Linked DNA regions of Homo sapiens. The protein of the gene in region 1 purifies or fractionates together with the protein of each later gene. This does not show direct contact. Each region holds a gene or a part of one and is shown in the gene's direction. Other genes may lie near its edges. The genes, in order: ZC3H15, FTO and ABCF2.

Region 1 (3,657 bases):
TGTTTTTCCTAGATCATTTGTAATTATTTTATTTTTATAGTCTATGTCATATGAATTTATTTTATATATCTTAAAGTTCTCACTCTGTTGCCCAGGCAGGAATACAATGGTGTGATCTTGGCTCACTGCGGCCTCTGCCTCCTGGGTTCAAGCCATCCACCTGCCTCATCCTCCTAAGTAGCTGGGACTACAGGCGCATGACACCACACCTAGCTAATTTTTGTATTTTTTGTAGAGACGGGATTTCGCCGTGTCACCCAGGGTGGCCTCACAATCCGCCTGCCTTGGCCTCCCAAAGTGCTAGGATTACACACGTGAGCCACCATGCCCAGACTAAGTTTGTTTTCTTTTAAATGAATAGCTGCTTACACCAGCATCATTTATCCAACTGAAATACCACTATTATCCTACAGTCATAGTCATACATTGTTTAGTGATGTGGATACAATCTGAGAAATGTGTCGTTAGGCGATTTAGTCATTGTGCAAATATCATAGAGTGTACTTACACAAACCTAGATATTACAGCCTACTACACACCTAGGCTATATGGTATAGCCTATTGATCCAAGGCTTCTAACTTATACAGCATGTTACTGTACTGAATACTGTAGGCAGTTGTAACACATTAGTAATGATTTGTGTCTGAACATAGAAAAGATAGAGTAAAAATATGGTATTATAACCTTACAGGATTACTGTCATATGTGGTCCCTCATTGACCTAAATGTCATTAATTCTGTGCTTGACTGTACATTAAAGTCTCAAGGCAAGTCTTTTCCCCAAAATGGTATACCTTTTCTATTTTTCCTGGTTGTTCTTAGGCATTTATTCTTTCATACGAATTTTAAAATGAGTTTATCCATTGGCAACTCATTTGAAAAAAATGTAGCCCCTTTTTTTTTCAGGTTCTTTAGACCTCTCACTTGTAAAGATTTCATAGACATGGATCTTTATTTTTAAAGTACATTTTTCCACCATTTTTATCTCCTTTTCATTAACTTCTGGAAACACATTTTTGTAATGTAGGAGAGAAGAAAGAATTTCTCATGTGTTTACAGATTTTTTAAAAATCTGCTAATATGTATTTGTGAGATAAGTAAATTTCTCTTGCTCATGCTGTCTGCAAATCAGTGACCCAACACTTTCCTTTCACATCCATTTTCCCAGCTTGATTCTAGAATCTAAAACTATTGCTCTTCCAAACTGCTAACTTAATAGCCCGGTTTAATAAAAATTAATGTTTAGAGCTCACGCCTGTAATCCCAGCACTTTGGGAGGCCGGGGCGGGCAGATCAGCTGAGACCTTGCAGTGAGATAGACTTGGGTGTGAATCTTCCTATCTTTTTTGTTACATGATCCTTAAATAGCAACCCTGGTCTTTATCTGTACTGTGGAAGTGCAGTTATTCTTTGTTGGATTCTTCTGGTGGTTAAATAAGAAAATAATGTAAATTTTCTGGTGAATATAGATATCAATATGTAAGAAGAACTCACTTTCTTCACTTAGCCCCTTTTTCAATCCTGCTTTCTCTTCCCCAACTTTTTCTTCTAGTGGAAAGTGTTTTGAGTGGTGATATCAGAATTCATAAACCTGGGAAAGTTATGAAATGTGTGTGCTGGTAGTTAGCTTTGATAGTATATTTAATACTATATTTTTGATACTTGCGTGGATAACTGGACTTATCTGTGAACATGGGGTACCTACCCATCATATATAACATCGGAAATGAGCAGTAGTGCTGCTCTTAGAGCTGGACAGGGGGTATCCTGGTCTAGGCCCTGCGATACATGTGTCTTCTCCAGACTGCTGTCTCCCCTCAGGTAAGGAGTCACTGAAGCCAAGGGGATGTACCCACCCAGATTTTGCAACATCTCTTCCTACAACATTCTGACCCTGGTTTATCTGCCTACAAAGGCCTCTCCACCATGCCCATCTCTGTCCATTGTGCTACCAATATGTCTGAGGTAGCCAAGAGAACAGTGTACGCTAAGGGTTTGAACAGAGCCTGCATCCATACCCTTTCCTTCCTTCTTGCACCTTTACCTCCCCCTACACCCAAAATGGAATGAAACGGGGTGGGAAGAGGAGAAAAAAGAGCCCAGGGCTAACTCTTGTGTTGCTGCCATGCTTCAGTGTGGAACTCCATGGAGTCTGAGCATTTTAAATTTGAACCTGTCCTTCCAGGTCATAAGGTATATTTGTCGAGTAGGGTTACAGACCATATTTTATTCATCATGAACTTGATTTCTAATTTTAAATATTTAGATAAATGGCTTGTAGACCTCCATTGTATTCTTGCTCAAACATTGCCCCACAAATGTTTGAGATGGGCCTGATGAGCAAAGGATACTTCTATTAAAAATTAAGCGACTTAAATTTTTTCTTTCAAAACATTTTTTGTGTTTAAACACATCCACCATATAGAGTCATATTCAGGATTTGGGATGTCTTTGACCTAATTATAGCATTTGGCCATTCCTTTCCTAAAATTTCCTCTTTCTTGAACACATTTTGTCCTGGTTTTCTACCTGCTTCTTTGATGTTTCTAGGTCTTTTTATTGGACTTTTTAGGTTCTTTTGTCCCATTTTATGTTGATTTTCTTCAAGGAAGTGTCCTTTACTCTTGCCACTTTTTTATGCTCTCCTTAAGTACCATATACCCAAAGTTTTAATTGTTACCTGTAAGCTGCTATTTCTAAAGTCTTTATCTCAAAGCAGACCCTCTCTGATTTCAGTGGAATCAATATGCATGTCTATCTGCCTTCAAAAGAGCTCTACCCAGATGCTTTGTAAGCATCTTGCACTCTGTATGTCTAAAACTAAGCTCATCTTCACCTCTTACCCTGAAACCTGTTCCTCCTGTATTCCCTGTCTTGTTTAACGGCACTAACCATATACATGATAATCCTAGATTCCTCCCCCTTTATACTTCATGTTCAGTCAGTCCTATCAGCTCTGTCTCCTTTTCTCCATCCTTACCAGTAATGCTCATTTTAAGCTCTTGTGTTTTATTGTGTACAGCAGTTGCAGCAGCCTCTTGCCTTTATTCTTGGATTCCCAATCCATCCTCTACAAAACTTGCCCTCTTGATATTTTATAAAATGTGACCTGACCTTGTTATTGGGTTACTTTAAACAGTTGAGAGAACTCTGTTCAAGCTACTGATGCAATCTAAGCATCTTACTGATGTTTCTCATACTTTATTCCTCTAGTCCCTGTAACTTTGCATTGGCTGGCTCTTTCTGTATTTCTTTTCTTGCCCATCAAGAAAAACTCATCCATAAGGTTATTGGCTCAATTTAGTTTTCTCAGGTATATGGGCATTCTTTGTTCCCAGAGCACTATGTACTATGTTACAGTTGTTGACATGTCTGTCATCCTGCTAGATTCTGAGCTTCTTTAAATAAGCATCTTTGTCTTTTCATTGTATTCTCTGTCATCTAACATAGGACCTGACGTATAAATGTTTGGATGAATCCTCTAATCATATTAGGTATGTAAATCGTGTGCCTGGAACTATGTTATATGTCATGTTTTGTTTTGAATTGTTTTGTTTAATATCCTACATTGACCTAACCCAGTGTTTTTCCATGAGGGCACTATATAGGTTTTTGGGGTGGTATAATTCATTATCATGTGGGACTGTACATTTCAG
Region 2 (3,657 bases), on another chromosome or scaffold:
TTTTTGCATGTATATTTTTGAGGAAAGATGGGGCCTCTAGAGGTCACATATTTATAATCCACATATGCCTCCTGGCTGTAGGTAAGTTTTATTTGGCCCAAACAAACTAAAAGTTGTTTCAGAATTATTTTCTAATATTTAAAAGTTGAGGGATTTCACATAAAGATCTGGGTGTCTGACTCTCTTGAAAAACTTAAGTATCTGGTAACAGTGGGCATGCATTTTCCTAACTAGAATTGAATAGTGGCTTCCCTTTTAGGTGGGAAATGTGCTTTCCATTTTGCTGTCATCCAGTTTTGCCCCTTAAGTTACAATATAGTGGTGTAGTGTGGAGCTTTAGATGCAGACTCCTGAGATTGAATTCTGCTCCCTCATTTACTTGCGCAAGCAATTTAACTTCTCTGAGCCTCCATTTCCTCATCTATCAAATAGGAGTGATATGGTTCTGGTAGGGATTGAGATATTATATAGCACATAAAACATTGCTGGCATACAGTAAAAATAAACATTGTTATCATCATCATTATCACCATCATCACCACCACCTTCACTACTGCCTATCTGACCCCAGTAGATATATATTCTGTATGTATATATATATATATGTATTCTGATCCCAGGACGTTTATTCTGTAAACTTATGTTGAGTGTCTAGTCAAGTGGATTTTCTCAAATGGGGTTCCATTAACTTATTTCCCATGCAGCCAGAATGGTACTAGTTTTGTACCACCTTTCAGAAAATTGAGAATATAGTCACTCAAACCATTTTCTGTGTTCTGTGGTTCAGATAAGGAACCTGATTAAGTGTCGAGTAGTGTACTCAGCACCAGGGTAAAGATGGCAGACACAGTCCCATGGAACTGGCTGGCTGTCCATGGAAGGTAAGTAAGTACCAACAGCAGAGTGGTGAGTTTTATCACGGGAGGACACGGTAGCAAAGAGGATCTAACATGGCCTAGTAGTCATGGAATTCCTTCCTTAGAAGATCTGTTTAAAGGTGTATCCTTATGAGAGGCCTGGGATTCCTTACGGGGTTTTTCAGAAACATTAAAACTGTTTCATTAGTCATGGAATAAAAAGCTATGGATGTTGAAATCCAAGTTAGCTTCAAAGACTCTTATGCTGGCTTAGGTTAGATAATCTTTTAAACTATTAAAAATAGAACTAGTTTATTATGGAAATGGTTATATACCTAAGAACATTTAATAATTTTGTTTGAGTAATGTACATTTTTATCAATGAAGGAAAATATCCAGAATATGTAACCTACCGTTTTAAGTAACATGATTTAAAAACTCTTCTGCTTTTGGTGATAGTTGTCTTATCAACTTTAAATGATAAGGTTTATTGAGTTATAAAAATAATAACTTGGCCAAATGCAGTGGCTTATACCTGTAATCCCAATGCTTTGTGAGGCCAAGGTGGAGGAGGCTCACTTGAGACCAGGAGTTGGAGGTTACAGTGAGCTGTGATTATGCCACTGCACTCCAGGCTGGGCAACAGAGTGAGACCCTGTCTCTAAATAATAATAACAATAACTCAACAAAAGAAAGTTTGTTATTTATGTTTTTACTGACTGGGTATTTTTACCTTATTTTATATTTCAAATTTGGCATTTTATTGAGGTCCTGAGAAGGTTCTTTTGGAGTCTACTTTTATTATGGGCCATTCTAGATTATGTCACCAGTTTATCTAAAGTGGACACTAAATATAGGACAGTTTTGGTGTTAGGCCAAAGACCAGGGGACTTGAAAAATGAAAACCTCACCTGACAGATTCTACTCTGTTTTTTTTCCTTCTTCCCGAAATCCATTATTATTTTTTGCTTAATCTCTCCTTCAATATATGGGTAAGCCTTTAATCACTGTTTCGGAGGTTTAGTTGACTTCTGTAAATAGAAGAAGAGTTAGTGTATTTGATCATAGTTTCCAAACCACTTTTAATACTGTACCTTACTTGAAAATTAACCAGCTAAACTATCGAGTAACAGTGAGTTCTTGTTGCTTTCTGTTATTTCCAGGCTGTTTCCTAACCCTCCTAGTACTGGTTTTGAAAACTAAATTAGCCATTCAAAAAAACTCTTAGACACTTTGAGCAAACAGTAGCTTCCTTGAAGATAGCATTTGTGTCTAATTCATCTTTTCATCTCTCCATTGTACCTGGCAGGATGTCTTCCACAAAGGAGACATTAATAAGTATCTGGTGAAGAAAGATTAAATGGTTGAGAGAGTCCAGCATCTGTTATGTGATATATGTGACCCTTCATAATTATGATTCTGGATCCTTGGCTGCTAATGAGATTTACTGTGGCTGAGTTTAGTGATACAGATTTTGGCATGTAGATGATAGTCTCCAAAAAAGTAGAGATCATGTTTTTTTTTTTTTTTCCGTTTTGTCATTCACCATTTTATCCCTAGCCCTTAAGATTTTGCCAGACACATGGTAGATATTCCATACTTGTCAAACAATGAATGAATGAATTCCCAAGAGCATCACTTGTTATTGGTCAGTAGACTTTCTAATAGTGAGAGATGGAACCGGAATTTGAAAGAAGTAATGGAAAATGGTTAAGTACCTTATGAATTTTAAATTAATATACCATAGGTGTGGGCATTAATTTTGAGAAACAAGACTCTTCTGTTCAACACATACTTTAGCAACTGTCAACACTTGTTTTCAAGTGTTCTCTTCCAATTTTAAAATGCCAGTTTACCTTTCAGATTTAGAGTATTTTGTTGTTGTTAGTTTATTATGGCAGTTTTCTTGCTAAAGTTATATTTAAAGTGTGACTTTCTAACTTCTAGAGGAGAGGAACTTTTGTTAAGGTGGTACTTTTGGAACCTTAATGAAAAACACACCTTAGAGAAGGTGAATTTAGAGTTCTGCTAAGCACATTCATTTACTCTTCTATTATAAACTGGTTTTGTAATATTTTATAAAATTGTCTCACTGGTTGATTTCACAATGTAAACTGGGAGGATTCTTAGGATTCCTTGGGTTGGATTAGAACAGGTTCAAGAGATGAAGATTTGTGTTGGTAGGGGCTTGTTTCCAAACGTTTGTCCTTGGCATGCTCTTTGTTAAGCCATCACATGTTTGAAAGTTAAACCTTGAATTGGTGCCATGGTTTGCATTTAAAAAAATGTATTTTATTATGGTAAGAACACAACATAAGATCTACTCTCTTACCACATTTTTAAGTGTACAATAAAGTATTGTAAACTGTAGGTACAATGTTGTATAGCAGATCTCTGGCACTGATTCATCTTGTATAATTGAAACTTTATGCCGCTTGATTAGCTCTTTCCCATCCTCCCAGCCCTGGTCATCATCTTTCTACTCTCTGATTCTATGAGTTTGACTATTAGACGTACATTTTTGTTTTTGCTATAAGCATCTGTCCTGTTGCTATGCTGATCATTTATTTACTCTGTAGTTTTGGAAATGACCTGCTTACAAGATAACCATGCCTCCCCTTATGTTAAAAAACTGCCATATGGATAAAGGGCAGTTAAGACCTTTACAACTGGTAGAAACCAAGTAGAAAATTCAGTTTGAAGGACCAAATTATGTTGCAGCTGCTCTGAGGAGGAGATTTGTTGCCAGAGCATGAGTGTTTTCATAATTGTTTGTGATCAGAAAATTCAGAGCTCTGAT
Region 3 (3,268 bases), on another chromosome or scaffold:
GAGAAGCAGACAATCACCAAGTGGCCTGGAGACATCCTGGCTTACAAGGAGCACCTCAAGTCCAAGCTGGTGGATGAGGAGCCCCAGCTCACCAAGAGGACCCACAACGTGTGAGCCCTCTACCTGGGTTCGGGTCAGGAGCTCCATCTGGGAACTAACAGCTGCTAACCTGACCAGCCGCTCAGGACAGGACCCTGGGGCTACACTCCTGCATTGCTGCAATACTGCTCCCCCAGCCTCTCCCCTGCCCCTCAACCTGCCTTAGCTGCACTCTCTTACCTACAGCTGGACAGTACCTGTCTGTTTCCTGTCCTCCTTCCAGTTACATCTGTCCATGTCTGGACTCGGCTGGCCGTTCCCTCCAGCCCCTTGCTGGTTATCTTACTCTGAGTGTGATGCAGTCAGAGGCACCTGCGGGTTAGCCCAGGGGCCCAAGCCCTGGATTTGGCCTGCGGAGGAGCTTAGGATCCTCGTTTTCTGGGTTTTGGTGATGTTGGAGGAGTACCCCCCAGCCCACCGCCCCGATTCCTTTTTGCTTCTGGTTTGGAGCTCCGGACCAGGACCTTCGTCCTGGTCAGTTTTTAAATAATTATTTAGCAGTGTAACTTTTAGACCTGCGTGACATCTACAAAGCGCCCAATAAAGAAAGAGGAAGCCACGGTCCCTACCTTCCTTCTCGGGTCTCTGGGGCCTTCTCCTCCCTGCAGTGCCAACATGCACTGCCCACAGCAGGAGCTGGATCCAGCGTCAGTGTGTCGATGGGAACTGAAGACTAGTCCATAGGAGCTGGAAGAACTTTGTCCCTTTACTTCTGATTTGAAATTGTACCTTTTCTCAGGCCTGTGATTCACAGACTTTAACATGAATCAGAATCACCTGGAGGGCTCATGCAATCAGATTGCCAGATCTCGCCTCAGCGTTTCTGGTTCAATAGGTTTTGGGGGAGACCAAGAACGTTAACATTTCTAGCAAGTTTCCAGGTGATGCTGTTGTTGCTGGTCTAGAGACTATTTTGAGAACCACTGTCCAGGAGCGTGGTTTTCTGATTGTGATCTGAGGTTCTGCCCCAACTGCACAGCAGTTGGGCTGCTTGTTAAAAATGCAGGCCAGGTGCGGTGGCTCACACCTGTAATCCCAGCGCTTTGGGAGGCTGAGGCAGGTGGATCACTTGAGCTCAGGAGTTCAAGACCAGCTTGGGAAACATGGCAAAACCCGTCTTTATGTGCCTGGAATCCCACCTGCTCAGGTGGCTAGGGTGGATGGATCGCTTGAGCCCAGGAGGTGGAGGTTGCAGTGAGCTGAGATTGCACCACTGCATTCCAGCCTGGATGACAGAGCAAAACCCTGTCTCAAAAAAATGCAGACTGGCCAGGCACAGTGGCTCACACCTGTAATCCGACTGTAAGCTCATCACCTTGGGAGGCCACTGTAGGAGGATCAATTGAGCCTAGAAGTTCAAGACCAGCCTGGGCAAAGTAGGGAGACCCCTTCTCTACAAATAGTAATAAAATGAACCGGGCATAGTAGCATGTGCCTGCGGTCCCAGCTGCTCTGATAAGAGGAGGCTCACTTGAGCCCAGGAGGTTGAGGCTGCAGTGAGCAGAGCGTGCCGCTACACTCCAGCCTGATGACAGACCGAGACACTGTCTCAAAAAAATAAAAAAATTCAGATTGCTGAGCATCAGACCTATTGATTAATCGCATTTGGTAGAATGAGAGAGGTGCAGAGATGGCCAGGAGTTTGCATTTTCACACCAACGTCTGTGAACCTCTCTTCCTATTGGGATACAGGAAATTTTGTATTTTTACCTGTCCACAGCCATAGTTATCATCACTGTTGAATTCACTTCCAGCCCAGGGCTCTGCATACCTTATCTGGGTCTTTTGAACTTCAATAGCATTTCACCAGTGGCCATCCTTCCTGGTGTGGATTCATCACTCTGCCTCTGAAATCAGCCATCCCTATGGGAAGACACAGCCATGATTTTTCAGTACTCATAATACAGCCAGGACTGGCGGGAGCAACTGTCCCAGATGGTGCTTAAACCCCTTAGGAGCTCATGATCTTCTTGGAAAGCCAGTAAGACAGAACCATACAGGACACAAATTAGATGCTAAATTGTGATTTAGATAGGAGACAGAAGTATTCAAAAAGGAGGGAAATTTCTTGTGAGTAGCTGCCCAGAAAGGTGGAATTGGTGTGCTCTCACTTGAAAAATGAGTAGGATCTTCTCAGATGGCCACAAAGTCCAGGAGCTGCCCTGGGCAACAGGGACAGGAGCCTCCCGTGAGACACTGCAGCTGAGACAGATGGGAGTCCTCTGACCCCAGAGGGTACTGGCTTGACTGCTTTATGCCTTAAGTGGGGCCTGGAGCAAAATGGCCCAGGTTAGTCTGTCCTGAGAGTCCAGAGCCTTGGTTCAGGGGAGAATGGCATCTGGAGAGTGGGCTGCTGGGATAATGGGGACAGTGAGGGACAGAGCCCTTGATACTTAAGGAAGTGCTGGATATTGCTAAGAATTCAGGTAGTCTCGGGATCTCCAGAGTCTCCATACTAGGACAGGAGATCTTCAGAACCTGGAGGAATGGAAATAGTCTAGTCAGCTTATTTGTCAAGAAAAATGTCAACCTTGGTAATTTAAATAATGCTTTAAAAGTCCACAAAATACATATTTCTAAAATTAGCAGTGCCTTGTTTTGGATTGAGAAGTGGCCTGTTAATTCTCTTAAACCTTAGCCCGTAGGATGTGGCCAGCCGTTCAGAGCTGGGTGGAGAGGTAAGTTGATTGAGGGGTTGCTAGCTTTAACACAGCCAGCAGGTGATGCTGGTCTTTGGAACCCTTCTCCCACCTCTCAATTTGTAACATCCTCTTTTCCCCCAAGCCCCTATACCTTTCATATTGCTCCAGGTTTCTTTAATCACAGCATTCAAGGGCCTGAAGTATTTGTTCCCCCATAGGTGCTAAGTGAGACAATTGACTTTCTCCATTTTGCAATGGGCTTTTCTTCCCTTTACTGCTAACTCCCAAGACCGCCACGTCTGCTTTTCTGGTGAGCACCTATTGCTTTTCTGCTTCTCACCTCCTCCAGTGGTCTTCCTCCCTGTCAGCCTCTTCACCACCTGGGGAGCTTCTGCTATCTGCATCTAGTCCAGGCTCAGGCGTTTTGCTCATCTGCCTTCAGTCCAAGCCTCATTATACTCCGCTCACACTGATTCCACTCTACCTTTCACACCGTTTCTTTCTCTCATTCTTCCCAATTAAAGGAT

What was found.
Region 2: the proteins of ZC3H15 (region 1) and FTO fractionate together in Homo sapiens (co-fractionation; one large-scale study listed by BioGRID). This does not show direct contact.
Region 3: the proteins of ZC3H15 (region 1) and ABCF2 fractionate together in Homo sapiens (co-fractionation; one large-scale study listed by BioGRID). This does not show direct contact.

The regions. Positions count from the first base shown.
Region 1 is NC_000002.12:186,496,168-186,499,824, forward strand, and holds part of ZC3H15 (zinc finger CCCH domain-containing protein 15), read left to right. Parts: intron 1-3,657. UniProt on the Homo sapiens protein: Protects DRG1 from proteolytic degradation. Stimulates DRG1 GTPase activity likely by increasing the affinity for the potassium ions.
Region 2 is NC_000016.10:53,710,574-53,714,230, forward strand, and holds part of FTO (alpha-ketoglutarate-dependent dioxygenase FTO), read left to right. Parts: intron 1-3,657.
Region 3 is NC_000007.14:151,210,900-151,214,167, reverse strand, and holds the end of ABCF2 (ATP-binding cassette sub-family F member 2), read left to right. Parts: coding exon 1-114; 3' UTR 115-2,684; downstream 2,685-3,268. Other genes in the region: ABCF2-H2BK1 (ABCF2-H2B protein), read left to right, coding at 1-110.